Homo sapiens: one gene and its partners. The protein of the gene in region 3 interacts with the protein of the main gene of each other region in a biochemical or structural test. Each region holds a gene or a part of one and is shown on either strand. Other genes may lie near its edges. The genes, in order: GOPC, PALS2, KCNV1, FRMPD3, FRMPD4, ARHGEF11 and GRID2IP.

Region 1 (3,500 bases), on a different chromosome or scaffold from region 3:
AAGAGGCTTGTGATTCATTTATCTGCTGAGTAGGAAAACAGCTTAGTAGAGACAGAAAGAGTAAGGGTACCAGAGAAAAGATTATTAGTGGATCAAGGCCCTTTATTTAAGAGGTAGACTCCAGAGCACCAAGGAATGTATAAGTAATTAATGGTCCAATTGGAAATTTGTTTTTCAACTCTACAACTCAGCTAAAATGAATGTATATCTTAAAGATATCCAGTGAAGATAGACACTTTTATTTTTTGAGGATATTTGTTCCTCAATTAATTCCTGGAAATCATTTCTTTTATAATGCCCTACAATTTAAAAAGAGATGTATCAATATTTTAAACATTATTGGCAAAAGGGTGAGAATATCATCTATAAATTTTGCATCAACAGAATAGCTATTTTCATTTTTCCATTTTATCTGTTACTTTCTTAACCCTATACTGTTTATCCATTCCAGGAAGTTAATACAGATTTCTAAAAGCAAGTTATATAGTATGAGTTTACTCTATTTGGTATGCTATTTAAATGATACTACTTTTTCTTCTTTTTTCCTCCCAATAAGGATCAAGATTCCCTAAAGAAAAGCCAAGGTGTTGGTCCAATTAGAAAAGTTCTCCTCCTTAAGGAAGATCATGAAGGCCTTGGCATTTCAATTACAGTAAGAAGTAGTACTTCCAGTATCATTTTCTACAGTTATCTAGTATAATCATGCTCCTTTGTTGGACATCACTGGGGAACAGAATATTCTGGATATATTTTTTAAATAACTAAAATTTATCCCCATGGGGATAAATGTTTGCTTTTGTGTAAATATTTTTTTAAGAAATAAATATTCCTAGCAACTATTAAGTGTACCTTTAGTAAGCATAGTTTAACATTTTTATTATGATTCACTTAATAGTTCTGTGCCATATACTGTGATGCCTCTAGGAGCCCTTGGGAATAGACGTGGCTGTTTTCTTCTATGTTAAATGGCTTCAGATTGTATTGTTCTCTCTCGGAGTACGTGTATCTTTCTCTTGCCTCATTTATTAGCTGTCAGATTTCACTGGCTCTTGGGTCCAAATGTTATATATTCTTTTTTTTAAATTCGATGCCTTTAGGAGTCATTTTGTTGTCATCTCAGTGCTTTAATGAATAAGGTGGCTTTAATTTTCATTTGGTAATACTTAGGCACTGAGCAAGATCATTTGTTTTTTTAGTATTGCTTAATGTAGAAATGTTTCTTATAATAAAAAGCTCATCTAATCTATATTTCTTGAATACTTACCTTTTTTTTTTTTATGTGCTGCCTTCAAAGAGCATACATTTTAGCAGGACAAATAAGACACACACACACACCCCTACACACACGCAACAATGATATAAGCTAGAGAGTGATAGGTACCAAATACTGCATTTTTTCAATTCTACATTGCATATATTTTCATATTTTAACTTCTCTGAAATTGAAATTTATCTTATAATCTTAAAATTATTTTTGTGGCACCTAAAATAATTGGTCTTGTCATTCGTAGTGATTTAGACTTGATAAAATGTAATGGTGCTATGGAGTACTAACACATAAGTTTTTTTTAATTTAAGAATTTAGCCAATTTCTGTTCAATACTCTGATAATTTTTACCATTACTTAAGTAGCAAATAAAATTTTACCCAGCATTTATAGAGACAGCATAGGTGTTTAATGAAATATATTTTTAAGAAAATATTTTATCTCTAGATTAATCGGTAACTGTACCTTACAAAGAGTACTTTAATTTACTGCCCTTTGTTGTTGTTAGGGTGGGAAAGAACATGGTGTTCCAATCCTCATCTCTGAGATCCATCCGGGGCAACCTGCTGATAGATGCGGAGGGCTGCACGTTGGGGATGCTATTTTGGCAGTCAACGGAGTTAACCTAAGGGACACAAAGCATAAAGAAGCTGTAACTATTCTTTCTCAGCAGGTAAATTCCCTTCATGTAATTAGAACTGGATCTATCAATTGGTTATGAATCTATTGAACACTGTATACTTCCCTACGAAGTTTCTAAAGTAGTAAAGTGTTTACACATAGTTCTTGTTTCCTTTGATTTAATGCTTTTATAGCTGACATTCAGTCAGATTTACTGAAAATGGACCATTCCATTTTGTTTACTTCATAACTTTGAGCAAGTTACTTAAGTCCTCTGTCCCTCAGTGTCCTCACCTGTGTGGGAGGGATTGAAAGAAAGCTGTGAGGATTAAGTATGTTAATACATATAAAGTACTCAGAACAGGACCTGAGACTGAAAAAACAACATCCTTAATGCCTAGAACACTATATATAAGGTATTACAGAAAAGACAGTGCTAGAAGTAGATTGATTTTAGTCATGGAATATTAAAATTGAAATCACACATAGAAACTATCTAGCCCAACTCTCTTAAAATGAGTAAACTAAAGTTCTTAGCGATGAAAGGATTTACTCAAAGTTGCCAAGCAAATAAATTATAGAATTGAGATTCATACTCAGGAGTCATATTTGTCATACAGTTGTACTTAAAATGTTGTTTTATTTTATTTCTTTCAAGAATAGAGTTGAGGGAATTAGAGGCATTGGTAGTACATTGAGATGTTTCTTGGATTATCAGTGTGGTATGCCTCTGTAGAATTGCATCTCAGAGTTGAAAGTGAATATTGTTCATTGGTTCAATTCTATATGATGCATAAATCTTTGCAACATCACTACTTCAATAATTACATTACAGGGAAGACTTGCTGATATCAACCAGTCCATTCCATTGTAATACAGTACTGATTTTTAGAAAGCTTTTTCTCATATTAAGCCTGAAATCTGTGTCTCCATGACAGCTACTCACAGATCTAATTCTGTCATCTAAAACTTTGCTGAAGACCACTGCATCATCTGTCTCTTTCTGCAAAATGGTATTTTTAAAGCATTAGCTGACAAGAGAGATCTAAGAATGCTACGCTATTCTCTTAAGTTAGTGTTTTATCAATCCATCTTGACTGTCATCCAGTAGCAAAAGAGTGGGATAACTGGTGAAGGAGCTATCAATGGGCAGCCATAAGTTTTAAGGAAATGCTAACTAAGCACATATTAAAATTCTGAGGTATAACCTTAAACTGCTGGGAAAGAAGAGCACCAAAGAGACTAACTTAGTGAGTAGCAGTCAAAAATGCCGTGTTTTCTTTTGAGCAAAGGCAAGCCATAGTTTTCAGAATTGCCAACACCACACTTATATGTAGTGGTTGGAGTCTCTTATTAAATGACAATTATAGCTTGGAAATTTTTCTTTTAACATAAAACGATCTGTAACATTTTTTTCTTTTTTGGAGCCAGGATCTCACTTTGTCACCCAGGCTGGAGTGCAGTGGCACAATTACGGACCACTGCAGCCTCAACCTCCCAGGCTCAAACAGATCCTCCGACCTCAGCCCCCTGAGTAGCTAAGACTACAGATGCCTGCCACCATGGCCAGCTAATTTTTTTTTTTTTTTTTTTTTTTGTAGAGATGGGTTTT
Region 2 (3,500 bases), on a different chromosome or scaffold from region 3:
AATTATCAAGGGCTTAAAGCCCTCCACAGAACCTTTTCTTAGAATGAATGGGTTTAGTTCAACCATCATACATCTTCAGGGTAATGAACATGCTGCTGGACAACTGGCACTCTGGAAGAGCCTGGTCAGCTCTGTCTGTAACTGTGCTCTTCAACAGCACCATCTCCTCTCAAAGTATTTTCTTTCACTTGTGATTGCTTGTTTGATCCATTGGTTATTTGGGAGTATATTGCTTATTTTCCATATATTTTTGAATTTCTAAAATTTTCTGTTATAAAATTAAGGTGATTTAACTTTCTTTATATATTACAAAATGATCCTAAGATAAAATAGAAAAACATTGTTATTTTAGGGAGATGGGCTATGTTATGCATCCTGTTTTCAATTTAACATTGACATCTTGACATCTTGAGCTTAGTTAACAAATGAAGTATTACTTTGTTGATTGTGTCTTCATTATTTGAAGAGCAGCTAAAATTGAGAATTTTGCCTATCATAAAAAATTACTTCTAAAAAATCACATTATGTAGTTGCGCAGTATAGAAGTCTAAGGAATCAGTTGTAGTCAAACCTTCATGTTCTAATTTCTCTGTTCTAGAAATGGAAAGCAGTTTAAATATGTGGCAACGTAGATTGTTTTTTGAAGTGTTAGTAGAGAATAGGATTGTAGTTAAAATTCACTTGTAAACTAAAGAACATTTCTCTAAGAATTAAGATTCCCTCAGCATGGAGGTAGAGGTAATACATGTGCATATACATATTTATTTCAAGCAGCGCATTCCCCTATATGGTTTCACTGTAGGACTTCACCGAAAAAACATTAATTTTTAAAATTAATGTTCACAATGTTGAACCAAGTCCTATTATGCATTTATTTGGGGAGTTACAAGTTGCCTTAGAAGTTTTTTTATTTTTTTATTTTTTTAAGGTTTTTTTTTTTCCCCTCTTATTATTATACTTTTAAGTTTTAGGGTACATGTGCACAATGTGCAGGTTAGTTACATATGTATACATGTGCCATGGTGGTGTGCTGCACCCATTAACTCGTCATCTAGCATTAGGTATATCTCCCAGTGCTATCCCTCCCCCCTCCCCCCACCCCACAACAGTCCCCAGAGTGTGATGTTCCCCTTCCTGTGTCCATGTGTTCTCATTGTTCAGTTCCCACCTATGAGTGAGAATATGCGGTGTTTGGTTTTTTGTTCTTGCGATAGTTTACTGAGAATGATGATTTCCAATTTCATCCATGTCCCTACAAAGGACATGAACTCATCATTTTTTATGGCTGCATAGTATTCCATGGTGTATATGTGCCACATTTTCTTAATCCAGTCTATCATTGTTGGACATTTGGATTGGTTCCAAGTCTTTGCTATTATGAATAATGCCGCAATAAACATACGTGTGCATGTGTCTTTATAGTAGCATGATTTATAGTCCTTTGGGTATATACCCAGTAATGGGATGGCTGGGTCAAATGGTATTTCTAGTTCTAGATCCTTGAGGAATCGCCACACTGACTTCCAGAATGGTTGAACTAGTTTACAGTCCCACCAACAGTGTAAAAGTGTTCCTATTTCTCCACATCCTCTCCAGCACCTGTTGTTTCCTGACTTTTTAATGATTGCCATTCTAACTGGTGTGAGATGGTATCTCATTGTGGTTTTGATTTGCATTTCTCTGATGGCCAGTGATGGTGAGCATTTTTTCATGTGTTTTTTGGCTGCATAAGTGTCTGTCCATGTCCTTCGCCCACTTTTTGATGGGGTTGTTTGTTTTTTTCTTGTAAATTTGTTTGAGTTCATTGTAGATTCTGGATATTAGCCCTTTGTCAGATGAGTAGGTTGGGAAAATTTTCTCCCATTTTGTAGGTTGCCTGTTCACTCTGATGGTAGTTTCTTTTCCTGTGCAGAAGCTCTTTAGTTTAATTAGATCCCATTTGTCAATTTTGTCTTTTGTTGCCATTGCTTTTGGTGTTTTAGACATGAAGTGCTTGCCCATGCCTGTGTCCTGAATGGTAACGCCTAGGTTTTCTTCTAGGGTTTTTATGGTTTTAGGTCTAACGTTTAAGTCTTTAATCCATCTTGAATTGATTTTTGTATAAGGTGTAAGGAAGGGATCCAGTTTCAGCTTTCTATGTATGGCTAGCCAGTGGTCCCAGCACCATTTATTAAATAGGGAATCCTTTCCCCATTGCTTGTTTTTCTCAGGTTTGTCAAAGATCAGATAGTTGTAGATACGCGGCGTTATTTCTGAGGGCTCTGTTCTGTTCCATTGATCTGTATCTCTGTTTTGGTACCAGTCCCATGCTGTTTTGGTTACTGTAGCCTTGTAGTATAGTTTGAAGTCAGGTAGTGTGATGCCTCCAGCTTTGTTCTTTTGGCTTAGGATTGACTTGGTGATGCAGGCTCTCTTTTGGTTCCATATGAACTTTAAAGTAGTTTTTTCGAATTCTGTGAAGAAAGGCATTGGTAGCTTGATGGGGATGGCATTGAGTCTGTAAATTACCTTGGGCAGTATGGCCATTTTCACGATATTGATTCTTCCTACCCATGAGCATGGAATGTTCTTGCATTTGTTTGTATCCTCTTTTATTTCGTTGAGCAGTGGTTTGTAGTTCTCCTTGAAGAGGTCCTTCACATCCCTTGTAAGTTGGATTCCTAGGTATTTTATTCCTTTGAAGCAATTGTGAATGGGAGTTCACTCATGATTTGGCTCTCTGTCTGTTGTTGGTGTATAAGAATGCTTGTGATTTTTATGCATTGATTTTGTATCCTGAGACTTTGCTGAAGTTGCTTATCAGCTTAAGGAGATTTTGGGCTGAGACAATGGGGTTTTCTAGATATACAATCACGTCATCTGCAAACAGGGACAATTTGACTTCCTCTTTTCCTAATTGAATACCCTTTATTTCCTTCTCTTGCCTAATTGCCCTGGCCAGAACTTCCAACACTATGTTGAATAGGAGTGGTGAGAGAGGGCATCCCTGTCTTGTGCCAGTTTTCAAAGGGAATGCTTCCAGTTTTTGCCCATTCAGTATGATATTGGCTGTGGGTTTGTCATAGATAGCTCTTATTATTTTGAGATACGTCCCATCAATACCTAATTTATTGAGAGTTTTTAGCATGAAGGGCTGTTGAATTTTGTCAAAGGCCTTTTCTGCATCTATTGAGATAATCATGTGGTTTTTGTCTTTGGTTCTGTTTATATGCTGGATTACATTTATTGAGAAGTTTTATTATACACACCTTTGGTGACTAATTCCAGAAACCTTAAAGATCACACAGTTTTAAATATGAAAAGCCATCATAGCATCTTGAAGATTCTCAAAGATACTTTATAAATACTCTTCACAGTAGTCTAAGACGACCACTCTCAAGGTTGAGCCAGAAAACAAGGGGAAAACAGGAGTCCTATTATACATAATGATCTCATTTGACCCTTATTTTTGAGCATGAGTTTGAAGTTCATTTTGTTCTTATAAAAGTTTTCTATGTCTT
Region 3 (3,500 bases):
GAGTTCAGACCTCCTCCTGACATACTGCTGAGAATGTCCCCTGAATATACATGTGATGTTCTCATGTCAATTTTATCACCAATGCCTAACTTGCTTCTGCTGCTTCACTTTGTTGCTATGGTGCCCATTGTTTACTTTTTCTGGCTTTCCTGTAATCAGGTTCCTGATTGTCTTAAACTTTACAAGGAAGGTGAGAAAAACAGACACATAAAATACAAGACAACATAAAACTGGCATTTGAAACAAGTGCTAAAATGATGCATTGAAATGCAGGTGTGACCAAATATGCCCTCCACATGCAACACCGCAAAGGCCTCTTATTGTACAGACTAAAGTACAAAACTCCTATCATACCACCCCTGCCTGCCTTCAGTCTTACCTCTCGCCTTCTTTTTAATAGTAGAAGTTCAATAATTCTATAGGTGAATTAATGAATCTAATTATATTTCTCTCTAGCCTTCTCAACCTGGCCCCATCAACTAGACTGTGAACTTCCTGGCACAAGGATTATGATTTAATCAACTTTGTATCCCCAGAACATTGCCCAGTGCTGGGGACATTTAAGTGTGCAGTGCAGTTTGTGGGTGGCAGAGCAAGGAGGGAGAGGGGAGGGGAGGGAAGGAAGAGAGAGAAGAGGGATGCCAATGACTGACAGCATTTGTTCTGTTGCAGGATTACGCTCCCTTGGGATGACAATCACCCAGTGTTACGAAGAAGTCGGCCTACTGCTCCTATTTCTATCCGTGGGAATCTCTATATTTTCAACTGTAGAATACTTTGCTGAGCAAAGCATTCCTGACACAACCTTCACAAGTGTCCCTTGTGCATGGTGGTGGGCCACCACCTCTATGACTACTGTGGGATATGGGGACATTAGACCAGACACCACCACAGGCAAAATCGTGGCCTTCATGTGTATATTATCGGGAATTCTTGTCTTGGCCTTGCCTATTGCTATTATTAACGATCGCTTCTCTGCTTGCTACTTCACCTTGAAACTCAAGGAAGCAGCTGTTAGACAGCGTGAAGCCCTAAAGAAGCTTACCAAGAATATAGCCACTGACTCATATATCAGTGTTAACTTGAGAGATGTCTATGCCCGGAGTATCATGGAGATGCTGCGACTGAAAGGCAGAGAAAGAGCAAGTACTAGGAGCAGCGGGGGAGATGATTTCTGGTTTTGAATTAATTTTCAATTTATTTACAAAAGCTATGTACAATTAACTAAAATGATAAAGCAGTGATGTGGATTTCTGTATTCTGATGATGAGTCTCTTCAGAGTACTGCTCATCTTAATTAATTTTTGCTGATATATTGCTTCATCTACTAGAATATTTCACATCACCTATAACAACTGCACAGTGTTCTGACACATTTGAGTGTCCAAAATAGCCAATTAACACAACCAAATACAACTGGGCCAATATAAACATGTTTGAATTGTCAAATATAAAATAATGTTATTGCAATACATACAAAAAAGTTAAAGATTTTATGTATCACTAACATTAGAAGTTTTTTGCACCACTAATTTTTTAAAAATGGAAGGTAAACTGCATAGCCCAGAGAAAGATAAGTAAATATTTAAGAACATATTGAACAACTTTGCTATTTAAAGATATTATCCAAGTACATAAATTACTCCGTTCTCTATCAGTTAAAGCTATTGAATATAATACTTAGCTTTACAAGAGAAAACCCATATTTGATGGGCAGAGATTATATCCCTATCTTCTTTTTCATGTAAACCACTGGTCACAAATGAACTGATCTCTGTATCCCATTATTACTATAAGAGGTGGGAATCCCAAAACTGCTTAGATTGCAGTACATGAGTCTACACAAAGACTTCAACAATTGCACATCTTCATTCTCCCAACTGAGTGTAGTATGTGGAGCATAAAACAGCATATTTCTTAGTATTTCATGAATATCAGATGGTCTTTAAATGTCTCTTTATGGATGTATTGTTCACATTATGGCTTTAAAATAATGAATATGTAAAAGTGAGGTAGTGAACATCCTAAATTTCTACACTGGAATTACTAAATAATCTTATTTCATAAAATGGGAAATATATGTTAAATGACATCACTGGATGAACTTGAAGATCTTTTACTTGTTAACAAAAAAATACTATGGACAGCTTTCTGATTGTTGGGGTAAATAGCAAATGTTCAAACTTTGCAGGCATTTTGACATTCATCATAACAACACAATTCCTAGACATTGTATTATATAATTAAAGCCAAAACCTCTAAAGCTAAGAACTAGCTCATGATTCCCATTATTTTAGTAAATGAGATTCTACAACCTAAGAATAACAAGGAATGCATCACTTTAATACCTACATTTCCAATATAATAGAGCCCCCAAGGGGAAGAAAATTGGTTCTTGAGGAAAAAAAAATCTTATCACTTCATTTACAAAACACAGATAAGCATATTGAGTATATCTGTGGTATTAACATTTCATGGGGGTGAGATGTTAGGGAAAAAAGCCTAGAAGGCTCTTTGCCAGGGGTGAATGGTGATAAGAAATAAACATTGAGGACTGCTTTAATATATAGCTATAAGGTATTTCATAAACTCTATTTAAGACATCATATTATGCTATGCACTACCAAGAAAGAAAGATGCCAGTCAATTGTAAGATGCCATTAACTGTAAAATGCATCCGGATTTCAGATATGTAAAAATTTAAAATAAGCACCTTAAAATCAATGAAATATCGCATGTACTACCTCCTGTTTTCTGGTATGCATGGTTAAGCTCTGAAAACATTTTCACTGATGGCATGAGTTTTAGATTGTGTGCTAAAGTACTTTAATTCATTTAACTTGTTTCCACTTCTCCTAAATATTATAAAAGGTTCAGGAGATATGAATATTAGTAAGATAAATATTTTACTTCTTACACACATACATGGGTGCTAGATTGTGGCACAGGGCCACTAGTCATAGTATAAATCCCTTCCACAATCTGAAGGGAAAGTAGAAGTTAGACACAGAAGGTAAACTTACTCCAGCTTTTCTAGAACTTTCCCTAATAAGAATAGTTACTCTGATCCAGGACTATGCTCTGTATTCATCATGTATTATGCCATTTTATCCTCAAAATATCCCTATTATATAATTACTATTCTTATACTCTTCAAAATACATATTTTATATATTTATTAACTCAACAAATATTTATTAAGGATCTTTGGTGTTCTGGGGACTAGGGAGTCTTTCTTAAACAAGACTAGGTCCTGTTTTCTTGTAGTTAATATTCTGTTCAAAGGTGTGTGAGGAAAAGACAGCGAAACTGAAACATTAAAAGGTATAAACTTGCCTAAATTCACACAGGCTATAGATGGCAGAGCCAGCGCTGAATACCAATCTGCCTGACCCGGAAAACGACACTCCTAAAAGTCAAATTGCAGATTTCATTCTTCCTACACAAGCTCTGCATAGAAATTTATTTTTTAGGCAGGCAAGCCAACTTCTTGTGCATGG
Region 4 (3,500 bases), on a different chromosome or scaffold from region 3:
TAGATTCAACAGCTAGGAAATTTTTGTTAATTGTCCTAAAGAGGGGCTGGCAAAGAGAGGTCTCTCTCTATCCCTCCTCATCTGGCCAGGCCCGCCTACAGTCATTGCAGCTGAGGCCATTTAGCTGAGCTTGTCCTCTCTCCAGCAGCCACGTGGGACTCAAGCCTGGGAGCAACTAGCACTCTCTCCAGACTCTAAGCAAAGAGAAATGCCAGCCCTGGGGGCCAAATACATGGGGGTTGTCCAATGTCAAGGGTGTCCTCACACATGGAAAAGGCAGGCTCTCTCTGACCCCAATCCCTCGTGGTCCCTATTCCTCCCTATTCCTTTTCTGTTGCTGTGTCATTTACCTCTTCTCTTTCTTTTTTCTTCTTTTTTTTTTTTAGAGTCTCACTCTGTCACCCAGGCTGGAGTGCAGTGGTGCAGTATCGGCTCACTGCGACCTCTGCCTCTCAGGTTCAAGCGATTCTCCTGCCTCAGCCTCCTGAGTAGCTGAGACTACAGGTGTGCACCAGCCCACCCAGTTAATTTTTGTATTTTTAGTAGAGACAGGTTTTCACCATGTTGGCCAGGCTGATCTCGAACTCCTGACCTCAAGTAATCTGCCCACCTCGGCCTCCAAAAGTGCTGGGATTACAGGTGTGAGCCACCACGCCCAGCTCTCTTCTCTTTTTTTAAGGTGTATGTATATGGAGGGACATATGTGTGACTATGGGTATGTGTCTGACATGTGTTTGTCTACAAGATGGACATACATGTGTTTATAACAGGGAACAGCATGCATGTTGTACGGTTTTCCTGTGAACTAATACTTAGTTACAATAGCTACCACTTACTGAGGCCTTACTGTGTGCTAGGCAGTGCTTACATGCTTTGCATGAATGATCTCATTCAATCCTTGTGACAACCCCATGTGATAGAACTACTTTTATAAAACCCATTTAAGATGATGGAATGAGGTTCAGAGAGAGTAAGTGCCTTGCCAAAGGTTACACTGACAATGATTGAAGAAACCAGGACTTCGGTGCATCTGATTCAGAGCCCATGTTCTTAGGCAGGATAAAGACCTCAGCCATGAGCAGTGATGGCCCTTGGCTCCCCTGGTCCCAGGTCACTAGGTAGTGAGTTGGTCGTTTTCCTTTTCTTTCAATCATGTGCATGCTGGATGTTCTGTTCTTCACCTGTCTTCTACATCTCTCACAGTTTTTCTCTGATCCTCTATCCTGGCCTGCATCCATAGCTGTCATGACCCCAATCCCTGGGATCTATCTGTAAGGCATTTCCAAAGAGATGCAATGACGAGAGCCAGAACTCTAGCTAGAGCTGAGCAGCTGCTCCCTGCTGTAACATCATTGCTCCTCTGACCCTATCTAAAGAACCTTTGGTACATCCACTGCCCTGACATACCTCAGTGACTCTGACACCTATTTGGGAAGACACAATGTTACCTACTGGCCCTTGTTGGACAAGAGAAGGGGGTGGAAAGAGGGAGAAGGAATCGGTCATTACCTGCAGTCTGTGGGGGTGGTGGGTGTGGTCCATCCTCGGATGCAGCCAGGGCTTCTAGAGCCTGCAGAGTGGACACCAGGGCATCATCTAGCTCCTGGGCATGATCTCGAACTGTCCGGGTCTGCACACTGTCAATCAATGTCACTGGAATCTCATCGTACAGAAGCCCACGCAGGTGGCGTCCTTGTTCCTGGCTCTGGACAGCCCGGCGCTTGGGGTCATCCTCATCAGAGCTGTTGTCTCGGAAACCAGGGGGTGGGGCAGCAATGGCTGGCAACAGAGAAGTTGTCTCATCTTCCTCCTCCTCCTCCTCCTCACTCCCAGGTGGTGGGAGGGACATCAAATCTACTATATTGTCACGAGAGGAGCCAGGCTTCCCACCTTTGCGAGGGCCCAGCTGCTCCTGAAGTTTGGCTTTGCAAGAGTCACAGTAGAAATTCAGGGCTTCAGCCCCAAGGGAATTGTCCAAGGTGTAGGACCGGGCCCTGCTGGCACAAGGCTCGTGGTCTAGGCTAGCTGCATCAAAGTCATCAGGGACTACCTCATAACCTTGGCCAGAGCTTTTGGATGTGGGGTCAGACTTGGTTCGGGGCCTGGTCTCCTCAAAGAAGATTAGGTTCTCGTTGACATCTGTCCGGCTTTCCTGCTCCTTCCTTTGTTCCCGCATATGGAGGTAGCAGAAGCTGACAAGCTCAGAGTCGGCAGGTGGGGGCGTGCAGCGGCTCGATTTCCTGGGGCTGGTGCCCACGCTGCCCACATAACTACTCTCCTTTTTCCCCAGGTGGCCCCCAGTGACAGGGCGGTGGGCGCTGTGCATGTAATCTAAACCCAGAAAGAGAATCAACAGATGAGCCCTGGTGCCAAGGATTGTGAATGAGCTCCCTTGTTGTCTCTGGCCCATGTCTCTGTAGCACAATCAAGTGGCAGGTCCCAAGACAAAGCATTACCTGGCTGCCAAAGATTAGAGGTAGGGAAGTTGATGAGCTATGTTACTGCTGACCCTGAAAGTAGAGTGAATAGAGTCTAATAACCTGAGCTGCTAATAGCCCCATCACCTCTGAAATGGGAAAAGGCATGGGGTATGGTAGGGGTCGGGGTGAACACCCTGGTTTAGGGCCTGGTATCTGGGCACAGCTGGACTCTTACATGGATACCCTCTATCTGAAAGTCAGCTGTAAACGTATGTCCCACTTGGAACTGTTCCTACCCCTGTCCCCACCCCTTTTCAGAGCTTTTCCACCAGTGCTCTGTTGTTCTTGTTATCTTGAATCTCTTCTAGCAGAAGGAAATAAATCTGACAAGTTACTAATGCTTTAGTCAGAACCTGTTAAACAGGCTACATATAATGCCGAAGAGTTTGCATTTCAAAGAGGCCTGTTGATGGAGGGATCCTAAAAGAATAAGGCTCTATATTAGAATTCCGGGGTCTGAATGTGTAAAGTATATGGGAGATATGCTGGGATGTGCATATGTGGGAGGAGGGCAGGGGAAGCATTCTTATAATTCTTCAAATTTTATTCTTTTCTGCATTCATGCAGGGCCAGCCCTACCTGCTACACATACATATGGCAAATGCTCTCGTCAACCGCTCTTAATGATGGTAGGTGTGTGCATCTGAGAATTATCTATAGCAAATGCTTTATCTGTGAATACCTTCTCTCACTGTTTTTGGAGCTCTTCCCCATTTTATCTGTGAGAATATACTCGGACAGCAGACAGACAGATAACAAACAAGCACTAACTTAGGCTAAGGTCCTAATATACATGATCCTACTTATTCTTCATAACAACCCAATGAGGTAGTTATTATCATTATTCACATTTTAAGGATAAAGAAACTGACTCACCTAAGGTTACATAGACCAAGTGGTAGACTGGATTTCCGCCTAGGTCTGAAAGACTTCAAAACCCATGTTTTTAGCCATTACCCTTATAACTCATCATGGTGGTCAAGATGCTGGAAAACAAGCCTTCAAAATGCCACTCAAACT
Region 5 (3,500 bases), on a different chromosome or scaffold from region 3:
ACATCCACTAGGATATCAAAAGACTGAAGATAGAAGTTTTGTACTATCATTACAACATTTATCTTAATTTCCTAAAAACTATGGTAAAACTCTGACGATCCTTGACCGTCTCTGAATTCAATGAGGAAAACACTCAATATCTTCCTCCATGAAGTAGGGAATATTAAATCTCACCTTACAAGGAAAAGAACAATTAATGTTCTGGAATAACGGCCTATTGAAATCTCACCTTTAAGGGTAAAAGACATGTTGTATATTTACATTTGTAGATATGAATGAAGCCTTTTAATAATAGAACCAAGGGTCAGATGGAATTAAGCTATACTTCCCTACCCCCAGATGGTATTACATTTTATCAAATAGCAATTACAGTTTATGCAGTATCAATTTTGTTAAGGTCGGTTCTCCTAACCCAAGGAATTCTTACACCTGAAGCCTAAATCAATAAGTACTATATTTGGGTAGTTGAAAAACTGTATTTACATAAGTGATGCTACAAGCCATTAAGTTAAAAAACAGAGACGAGCCTCCCACCCCCGCCCCACCCAAAACCAGACAGTACAGTAATGTGTCTTTGCGTGATTCTTTCTCTTTAGGACCTGAAAACAAGGGGAAGCATAACCTCCTTGGCCCAGATTGGAACTGTATACCCCAAATGACCACCTTTATTGGCGAAGGGGAACAAGAAGCCCAGATAACATACATAGATTCAAAGCAGAAGACGGTGGAGATCACAGACAGCACCATGTGTCCAAAAGAGCACCGGCACTTGTACATAGACAATGCCTATAGTTCAGATGGACTTAACCAGCAGCTGAGCCAGCCCGGGGAGGCCCCCTGTGAGGCAGACTACAGAAGTCTAGCTCAGCGGTCCCTATTGACCCTCTCAGGACCAGAAACTCTGAAGAAAGCACAGGAATCTCCGAGAGGAGCTAAAGTGTCCTTTATTTTTGGAGACTTCGCCTTGGATGATGGTATTAGTCCCCCAACCCTTGGCTATGAAACGCTACTAGATGAGGGTCCTGAAATGCTGGAGAAGCAGAGAAATCTCTACATTGGCAGTGCCAATGACATGAAGGGCCTGGATCTCACTCCAGAGGCAGAGGGCATCCAGTTTGTGGAAAATTCTGTTTATGCAAACATAGGCGATGTGAAGAGCTTCCAGGCCGCGGAGGGGATCGAGGAACCCCTCTTGCATGACATCTGTTATGCAGAAAACACTGATGACGCGGAGGACGAGGACGAGGTGAGCTGCGAGGAGGACCTCGTGGTGGGGGAGATGAACCAGCCGGCCATCCTCAACCTGTCTGGGTCAAGCGATGACATCATTGACCTCACATCCCTGCCCCCTCCAGAAGGTGATGACAATGAGGATGACTTCCTGTTGCGTTCCTTGAACATGGCCATTGCCGCACCCCCACCTGGCTTTAGAGACAGTTCAGATGAAGAGGACTCTCAGAGCCAGGCAGCTTCCTTCCCCGAGGACAAGGAGAAAGGCAGCAGCCTGCAAAATGATGAGATCCCCGTGTCCCTCATTGACGCTGTGCCCACCAGCGCCGAAGGCAAGTGTGAGAAGGGACTGGATAATGCCGTCGTCTCCACGCTGGGAGCTCTAGAGGCTCTATCCGTGTCAGAAGAACAGCAGACCAGTGACAATTCAGGTTCTTTCACAATTGTTACATTCATTCACTGATAACCATATCATTCCATCCTTCCAAGCCATTTGCCCCTGGAGTCCTGTTACGTGGTGTTCTCCATTTCACACATGTCCCATTTCATAAATGTGCTGAAACTGCCATCATGGGTTTTTTTGTGTGTATGTGATTTCCTTTGTTATTTTTTTTTAAAAACATAAGGCACATCTCCCCCCACCCCCATTTCTGGAAAAACTGCAATAAACTCAGAGTCCTTACTGAAAAGGGAAAAACTTGGTATTTTGTTTTAGTAATAACGAGTCCCATTTTCTTACATGTCTCCAAGTGCCTCTGATGCATCCATTAATCAGTTCTTGTTTTTTACGGCATGCAGGTGTAGCCATCTTGCGGGCTTATAGTCCTGAGTCTTCGTCAGACTCGGGCAATGAAACTAACTCTTCTGAAATGACTGAGAGTTCTGAACTGGCCACAGCACAAAAACAGTCAGAAAACCTCTCCCGCATGTTCTTGGCCACTCACGAAGGCTACCACCCCCTTGCAGAAGAGCAGACCGAGTTCCCGGCCTCCAAGACCCCCGCTGGGGGCTTGCCTCCAAAGTCCTCGCACGCCCTGGCTGCTAGGCCAGCAACCGACCTCCCGCCCAAAGTTGTGCCTTCCAAGCAGTTACTTCACTCAGACCACATGGAGATGGAGCCTGAAACTATGGAGACTAAGTCGGTCACTGACTATTTTAGCAAACTGCACATGGGGTCGGTGGCATACTCCTGCACTAGCAAAAGGAAAAGCAAGCTGGCCGATGGTGAGGGGAAGGCACCCCCTAATGGGAACACAACAGGAAAAAAACAGCAGGGGACCAAAACGGCAGAGATGGAGGAGGAGGCCAGTGGTAAATTTGGTACTGTGTCTTCACGAGACAGTCAACACCTGAGCACTTTTAATCTGGAGAGAACTGCCTTTCGCAAGGACAGTCAAAGATGGTATGTGGCCACTGAAGGTGGGATGGCTGAAAAAAGTGGATTAGAAGCAGCAACAGGGAAAACCTTTCCAAGAGCTTCTGGTCTTGGGGCAAGGGAGGCCGAAGGGAAGGAAGAAGGAGCTCCTGATGGAGAAACCAGTGATGGCTCAGGACTTGGTCAAGGGGACCGCTTCTTAACTGACGTGACCTGTGCATCTTCAGCCAAAGACTTAGATAACCCAGAGGACGCTGACTCGTCCACCTGCGACCATCCTTCCAAGCTTCCTGAGGCTGATGAGAGTGTGGCCCGCCTTTGTGACTACCACTTGGCCAAGCGGATGTCATCACTGCAAAGCGAGGGCCATTTTTCTCTGCAGAGCTCCCAAGGCTCTTCAGTGGATGCAGGCTGTGGCACAGGCAGCAGTGGCAGTGCCTGTGCCACACCCGTGGAGTCGCCGCTCTGCCCCTCCCTGGGGAAGCACTTGATTCCTGACGCTTCTGGGAAAGGCGTGAATTACATTCCTTCAGAGGAGAGAGCCCCTGGGCTTCCCAACCACGGAGCCACCTTTAAGGAACTGCACCCACAGACAGAAGGGATGTGTCCACGGATGACAGTGCCTGCTCTGCACACAGCCATTAACACCGAACCCCTGTTTGGCACATTGAGAGATGGATGCCATCGGCTCCCCAAGATTAAGGAAACCACAGGTACAGCAATGATGGATTTAGCACTTTGTATGACATGCCAAGAGCATGTAAACCATATTTACAACAAACTTAAAAACGTAATGTCTGGAAGAAAAGTAAAAGGTAGAATTTTAAAAGGCCACAGAACTGTAAAGTACCAATCATTGATCCCCTGGTATTTAATAAATACTAAAGATTATAAA
Region 6 (3,500 bases), on a different chromosome or scaffold from region 3:
TCAACTCTCAGCAACCCTCTATCCTTGCCGCCACCCCTGAGATGTCCATGGGTGCAGCCGTTGTAGCCCTGCCCACCTGGTGGAGAGGCTGGAGGTAGAGGACGAGGCTGACTGGTGCAGGCGAGTAGCCTCCGCAGCAGCATCCATGTCAACATCACTGCGAGAGCGGGGCACGTTCTCTGCCTTTCGAGACCGTTTCATCTCTTCCCGGCCCTTGAGGCTTTCAGAGCGGCCCAGGCGAATCTCTGAGCGTGAACTGGGGGGAAGGGACAAAAGACTTTGGGACTTGGGAAGTCAGTGGGCCATGCTTACATCCTGGCTAACTCTTACCTGTGGCTCCATCTCAAAGATGCCTCCGTGCCACAGGTTCTCCTCCTGAACATGGCCAAAGCAGCTGGATGGCAGTGGAAGCTTCTCAATGACAGACTATTTTTGCTGCTCTACAAACTCCTCCTCTCTCCCCAGCCTAGCCTGATGGATGGACAGTCATCTTCCTCTGGAGCTATTAGGAAGGGATCCTAACAGGAAGATGAAATCTGGGGCTAACAGACTCTGAGTTGTAGTGTGTCCAGAGGCCTGAGACACCATGCTTCTGTCAAGAAGGTGGTAGACATCATCGTCCCTCAACAGGGAACACAAGGTCCCAGCTCCCTGCCCCTAGTGGCCAGTTCACGTTGCCTCTGCTTTGGAACGGGTCAGCTCCCACCTTTAACTCTGCCTGAGGCGAACCTCTTTTAAGAGGTCTTAAGAGGAAAGTGGAGTCACTATATTCACAGCTCATTTTAGGATTTTCCACACTGCCTGTCAGAAAGTTCTATCTGCTGCTGGATTCTTAGCCTTCCAGTTGTGATGTGGATGAGTTCCATTCTTATCTTAACAATACTGTTCCTAAGATTCCATTTCCTCTCAAGAGCAGACAGGCTTGTGCTTAAAGGGGCCTTTTTACTGATAGGCAGGACCCGCTCCTTGGCCTGCCGTGCTTGGCTACTGAGTGTCTCTGGGGTTTGATGAGATGCTGATGACTGGGTGTTGCGGTGTCGAGTCCTGCAGTGCATCAGCCCAAGACAGCTGGCACCTCTGACCCCTAGCTGCCCCAGGATGGTCACCCCACCTCCATGCTGTGGCCCTGTTGGGCTGGTTTTCTGATATTATTAGTAATCTACATCCTGCTCTGCTTCTAGGACCACAGGAGGCCTGGAAATGTCTGCAGAGCTCTTAATAGCACAGCAGGTTGCTGCAATGAGGAGCTAAATGTCTCGGTCTCCATTCATTGTGCCCAAACTGCCAGATGATCCAAAATGGAGCTCATCTCCTAGGGTCCTGAGGGTTTTGTCTGCAGGGTTAGAAAACATACTGCCCACTGATCCCTTATTGAATTCACCCTCCAGAATTGTGTTAGAACAATCCCAACCCAGACTAACTCGGAACACTTTTCAGTGTCCTAATGGGTCACTGTACCACCACAACAAACACCCAGTGGAGTTACTGGGGCTGCAGAGCTAAGCACCTTCCTTCAAGCACCCAGAAGTAAGTAATGCTCCTCACCAAGAAGTGAGGCATATCATCTGTCTTTGCCCCCAAATTCCTAGGGTATTGCCTTCTAGAACTGGGGCATCTTATACCTGTTGAGTATCTACAACAATCTCTGACCCACCATATTGCTAATACTATTTCTTCTGAGATTGCCAATGAGTTGATAATCATCAAACCCAAAGGCTTCTGCTTAGAGTAGCTTTAGGATCCTAGCAAGTGTCTTAGGGCAAATTTACCTAGCAATGCCAAGAATGCAACTTTGTAAATGGTCTCAAATATTTTCTCAAAATGTTGATGTCTTATAATCTTAAAATATTTGATATATCTACGACATCATGTGCTTCCACAGGAATCACATAATTTGCGTATTTAACTTACCCATTAATGTTAGAACTCAACCTTCCCCCAGTACAAATCTAACCTTTGTCTCCTGTAAATCTGTCAATTCTCATGGCAGCAAAATCTTTTAACACGTGTTAAGCTGAAAAAAGGCTTCATATAAACAGAAAGGAGTAACCTGCATTCAAGCAGGAAAGGTTGGCTTATGGTTTGATAATTAGTTATTTCAAAGGCAAAATAGGCCAGGTGCAGTGGCTCATGCCTATAATCCTAGCACTTTGGGAGGCTGAGGCAGGAAGATTGCTGTGGTTGGGAGTTCGAGACCAAGCTGGGCAACATAGTGAGACTGTCTCAAAAAAATAAAAATAAAAATCAATTAGCCAGGTGCAGTGGTGCATGCCTGTATCCCTAGTTACTCAGGAGGCTGAGGTGGGAGGATCCCTTGAACCCAGGAGTTTGAGGCTGCAGTGAGCTATGATTGCACCACTGCAATCCAGCCTGGGTGACAGAGAAAGATCCTGTCTCTTTAAAAAAGAAAAAAAAATCCCCAAAACAAACAAACAAACAAACGAAGGCAAAATGGCTTGAATATCCACGCTGCTGCATACTGACTTGCTTTCATGCCTGCCTATACTCCAGCTCAGTGGCTCTGAGGCTTGACTGTACACAAGCATTATTTCCCCCCACACAAGACCATATTACTCTACCTGTTTAAGTCACCTTTAAGGGTGGTGTTGGTTTTTAAGTGTTGGCTATAGAATTTTAGACATGACTTGACTGCTGTCATGCCACAATCAAGAGCAAGTAAGTCCAAGAACAAGTTTTCATACCAGATGGGGACTCTAGTTAGAACCTGACCAAAGAAGAATATGAGAGATGCCAGTCTCAATTCCCCTTTTTCTTCTTGAAAAGGGAAAAACAGTCCATTTGTAATCAATCCACTTTGCCTCTCTTTGCTGAGGTGGACATCTGATGCCTATAGTTACATCATTTGTCTTTAAAGTACCCAGCAGAACCTCATCTCTGGCTCTCTTCTTCACATACAGACAGGAAACCACTTTCTTTTGCCTGCCTGGGTCTTTTTTCCCCAGGACTCCCTCTTGCCCCCACTATAGTCTTCCTTATCCTTGTCACTTAGGGTTTCCTGATTAGCTGCTTTTTATCACCTAGCTCGATCTTGGATGAAGGCTACTGAGTAGTCAGGTGATAAATCCAAAGGGAATTTGAAAAGTGTGTAGTTCTTGGGCTGGAAGTCGGGGATCTGCTTGCTCTTCCACTGGCCTGTTCACTGGCACACAATGTGTCTCCTGAAGATACTGGGGGTGGGGAGGAAGTTCTGTAAAGGGAGCCTTAGAAGCTAGTGGAGAGGGGTCAAGTAGCTGGAATTAAACCCTAGCATCAGCCCTGCCCATGACCCACTCTTCGAGCAGCTGGCGAGTCCCATCCAGCCAGTGCTACCTGTCACTCTCCAGCAGGTCCTCAGGAAAGCTTCCGGTCGAGAGTCGTTGTGTCCCAGGTTCTGGGGCATCATACTGCTGGTTGTTCTCAAAGTGCTGAATGATGTTCCTCACATTGCCTGGTTTGACTAGAAGCAAAAAGAAAATGAAGGACACTAGGCTTGCTGTTCA
Region 7 (3,184 bases), on a different chromosome or scaffold from region 3:
GAGACTCTGTCTCAAAATTAATTAATTAATTAATTAAAGGCAGCCTCTGCAAAGGAAATTGACCTGGCACATCAGACAGGCATAGGCCCAAATCCTGGCTCATTTCCTTACCTGCTGTGGGACTATGGGCAAGTCAGTTACCCTCTGTGAGCCCAGTTTTCTCATCAGGAAAAAGAGGGGTCATGAGAACCTCTACCACAGTGGTCATTAATTGATGTGACCCTGGTGGGTTCAACCGTGGCTCAGGCACCACAGTGCTTGCTGTGTGATCTTGGGCTAGTTGCTAAAGTCCTGTGTGCTTTAATTTGTTCACATGTAAAATAGAGATAATCTACCTCATAGAGGTGTTAAACGATGATTCAACAAGCTTGGAACAAAGCTCGGCACCATTTTAAGTGCTGAAAAAATGATAGCGATTCAGCCACTGAATCTTTTTGCAAGACTGACCATGTATCAGATGCTATTCTAAGCCCTGGAGGTGCAAGGAGGGAGCGAGCTTTCACTTAGGCAGTAGGAAATGAACTTATGAACAATTTCAGATCATGACAAATGCTCTAGAAAACAGAGTAAGGCCTAAGGCCAGGTGCAGTGGCTCACACCTGTAATCCCAGCACTTTGGGAGGCCAAAGTGGGAGGATCACTTGAGCCCAGGAGTTTGAGACCACCCTAGGCAACATACACCCCATCTCTATTTTAAAAATCAAAAAATTAGCTGGGTATGGTGGTGTAAACCTCTGGTCCCAGCTGCTCGGGAGGCTGAGGTGGGAGGATCACTTGAGCCTGGGAGGTAGAGGCTGGAATGATCTGTGAGCTGTGATCACACCACTGCACTCCAGGCTGAGCGACAGAATAAGACCCTGTCTCAAAAAAAAAAAAAAAAAAAAAAAAAGTAAGGCCTAGAGAGTGACAGAGGGGCCTACTGTAAATGAGTGGTTGGGGAAGAAGGTGGCAGTGGAAGCCTCTGATCAGAGACCCAGGGCCTGGCCCTGCAGAGAGAACAGGGGTGAATGGCCTGAGGCTGCACTGGCTGTGGCCAGTTCCAGGATGAGTTCAGTGGCCAGTGGGACTAGAGTCCCTGAACAGGGCCTGGTTCCCTGTTGGACACAGGGCCTGGCCCTTGGAAGGACTCAGGCCAACCGGGAATAGGGCTGCTAGGGACCTGTCTGTCGGGCCACCACCTGAGACCCTGGGGGCACAAGCGGGCTGGCTGTTTCCTTAACTGAGGCCTGTCAGTCCTTCCTGGAGACGGCCCAGCCAGCACTTCGGGCGCTCGACGGGCTGCAGCGCGAGGCCATGGAGGAGCTGGGCAAGGCGCTGGCCTTCTTTGGGGAGGATTCCAAGGCCACCACCTCTGAGGCTTTCTTCGGCATCTTTGCAGAGTTCATGAGCAAATTCGAGGTGAGCCTCGCTGGAGCCCTGAGGGGCCCTTTTGGAGAGGTGGGGGCCAGAGGCCAAATGAAGGGATCCTCCATGAAGCCAGGGCTGGGAAAGGGGCTCCAGTGAGCGACATGTCCCCCTAACCCCCTGATGGGCTGTCTAGTGTGGGAAGAGACAGGGAAGGCGTCACAGGTTCCTGGGACCACTGACCACCCTACCTCTGTGTTCCCCCTCCCCAGCGAGCGCTGAGTGACCTGCAGGCCGGGGAGGGCCTGCGCAGCTCCGGGATGGTTTCACCCCTGGCCTGGTGACAGTGGCCACACCGCGTCCTCTGCGGCCTGAGCAGGGAGATGGAGGCCGAGAGGGCAGCCCAGACACTGCCGAGGTCCGGGGCCACTGTGCCCCGGGCTCTGAGCACACCGCCAGCCTCTCCTGCAGCTACCTCAGCCGCCGAGCTGTGGTCGGGCCCTCCTCTGCCAGCCCTTGTTCCTACCCCCAGGCCCAGAGCCAGATGCTGTAGGAGCAGGTGCTGAGTGTGCCTGCACATGGAGGACCGTGCTCTGTCGGCTTCTTGGGCCCACTTCCCACTTCGCTCCCAGGCTGTCAGGGGGGCCTGGAGGGTGGATTACAAAGTGGCCACATTCCTGGGACATGTGGACCTTTTTTCTGATCCTGCTCCTAGTGGGTCCCTGTGAGGGGGCCGACACCCTTGAGCACGACCCTGCAGGCAGGCGCGAGACGCGAGAGGGCAGAAAGCCGGATGTAGAGGGGCCCTGGGGATGTGCACGCCCAGCCTGGGCCTTGGAAGCTGGCTTCAGGGACACAGGAAGAGAGAAGCCTGGGAGAGACGCAGGGAAGGAAGGACTGGAGAAGGAAGACCCCCTATGTCAGACTGCGGAATTGAGGTTTCATGCAGTGGACAAACCCAAACCTGTGTAGAGGTGGCCCAATTGGAAGTGGGGAGCCTGGGAGTGGAATAGGTGTGGTCAAGGTAGAGCAGACAGAATGGGGAGGTGTTGAGGCAGGAGGTGAGCAGGATCTGGTGGCCAACTGCCAGACTTCTCACCTGGACGGATGGTGATGTTCCCTGGAGCAAGTCATGAGACCGGGGCAGGTGTGGGGGCAGATGACACAATCTGGGATGTGTTTGGGACCCAAATGGTCATTTTACATGTGCCTAGGCATATAGCAGGAGTTACCTGGATACCAGGAGCAGGAGCAGGTGGCGTGGTGGGCAGGGAGGGAGGGTGTGTGAACTGTTTCACCTTTTTTAAAATTCTCTGATTGACAGATCCTTGGATCAGACAGCTTCCCTCGTTGCACTTTTTTTTTTTTTTTTTTTTGGAAAAGTCTGAAATGGGCTTTAATCCTGTCTCATGGATTCTTTTTCTCCCACTGCAATCAAATGGCTTACATTGCACCTGGGCAGTACTGGGAACCTGTTCAGTTCTTCCCAGTCTCCCCTAGGCCCCTCTTGGAAGCCACCTTTGTTTTTTTGTTCCTTGCACACAAGCACCATACAAAAACATCAAAACCAAAATATATACTGCAAGGGGGATGTGGCTAGTGGGGTACATTTCACCCTAGCAGCTCAAGCAGAATTGTTTCCAAAAGTTCCCAGTGCCTGTGTCTCTGGGAAACATGTCAGGAGGTCAGTTAAAACCTCTGCAGGCAGGGCGTGGGGGCTCACGCCTGTAATTCCAACACTTCGGGAGGCTGAGGCAGGTGGATCACCTGAGGCCAGAAGTTCAAGACCAGCCTGGCCAACATAGTGAAGCCATATCTCTACTAAAAATACACAAAATTA

Evidence for each region.
Region 1: the proteins of KCNV1 (region 3) and GOPC interact in a test that uses a peptide from one of them, tested with the Homo sapiens proteins (one large-scale study listed by IntAct).
Region 2: the proteins of KCNV1 (region 3) and PALS2 interact in a test that uses a peptide from one of them, tested with the Homo sapiens proteins (one large-scale study listed by IntAct).
Region 4: the proteins of KCNV1 (region 3) and FRMPD3 interact in a test that uses a peptide from one of them, tested with the Homo sapiens proteins (one large-scale study listed by IntAct).
Region 5: the proteins of KCNV1 (region 3) and FRMPD4 interact in a test that uses a peptide from one of them, tested with the Homo sapiens proteins (one large-scale study listed by IntAct).
Region 6: the proteins of KCNV1 (region 3) and ARHGEF11 interact in a test that uses a peptide from one of them, tested with the Homo sapiens proteins (one large-scale study listed by IntAct).
Region 7: the proteins of KCNV1 (region 3) and GRID2IP interact in a test that uses a peptide from one of them, tested with the Homo sapiens proteins (one large-scale study listed by IntAct).

What each region holds. Positions count from the first base shown.
Region 1 is NC_000006.12:117,568,012-117,571,511, reverse strand, and holds part of GOPC (Golgi-associated PDZ and coiled-coil motif-containing protein), read left to right. Parts: intron 1-556; coding exon 557-652; intron 653-1,653; exon of another isoform or gene 1,654-1,775; coding exon 1,776-1,940; intron 1,941-3,500.
Region 2 is NC_000007.14:24,674,452-24,677,951, forward strand, and holds part of PALS2 (protein PALS2), read left to right. Parts: intron 1-3,500.
Region 3 is NC_000008.11:109,965,772-109,969,271, reverse strand, and holds part of KCNV1 (potassium voltage-gated channel subfamily V member 1), read left to right. Parts: intron 1-672; coding exon 673-1,184; 3' UTR 1,185-3,500. UniProt on the Homo sapiens protein: Potassium channel subunit that does not form functional channels by itself. Modulates KCNB1 and KCNB2 channel activity by shifting the threshold for inactivation to more negative values and by slowing the rate of inactivation.
Region 4 is NC_000023.11:107,596,152-107,599,651, reverse strand, and holds part of FRMPD3 (FERM and PDZ domain-containing protein 3), read right to left. Parts: intron 2,332-3,500; coding exon 1,510-2,331; intron 1-1,509.
Region 5 is NC_000023.11:12,715,473-12,718,972, forward strand, and holds part of FRMPD4 (FERM and PDZ domain-containing protein 4), read left to right. Parts: intron 1-596; coding exon 597-1,661; intron 1,662-2,028; coding exon 2,029-3,318; intron 3,319-3,500. UniProt on the Homo sapiens protein: Positive regulator of dendritic spine morphogenesis and density. Required for the maintenance of excitatory synaptic transmission. Binds phosphatidylinositol 4,5-bisphosphate.
Region 6 is NC_000001.11:156,948,243-156,951,742, forward strand, and holds part of ARHGEF11 (rho guanine nucleotide exchange factor 11), read right to left. Parts: intron 3,458-3,500; coding exon 3,331-3,457; intron 1,776-3,330; exon of another isoform or gene 384-1,775; coding exon of another isoform or gene 331-383; intron 278-330; coding exon of another isoform or gene 257-277; coding exon 77-256; intron 1-76. UniProt on the Homo sapiens protein: May play a role in the regulation of RhoA GTPase by guanine nucleotide-binding alpha-12 (GNA12) and alpha-13 (GNA13). Acts as guanine nucleotide exchange factor (GEF) for RhoA GTPase and may act as GTPase-activating protein (GAP) for GNA12 and GNA13.
Region 7 is NC_000007.14:6,496,278-6,499,461, reverse strand, and holds the end of GRID2IP (delphilin), read left to right. Parts: intron 1-1,233; coding exon 1,234-1,398; intron 1,399-1,616; coding exon 1,617-1,688; 3' UTR 1,689-2,684; downstream 2,685-3,184.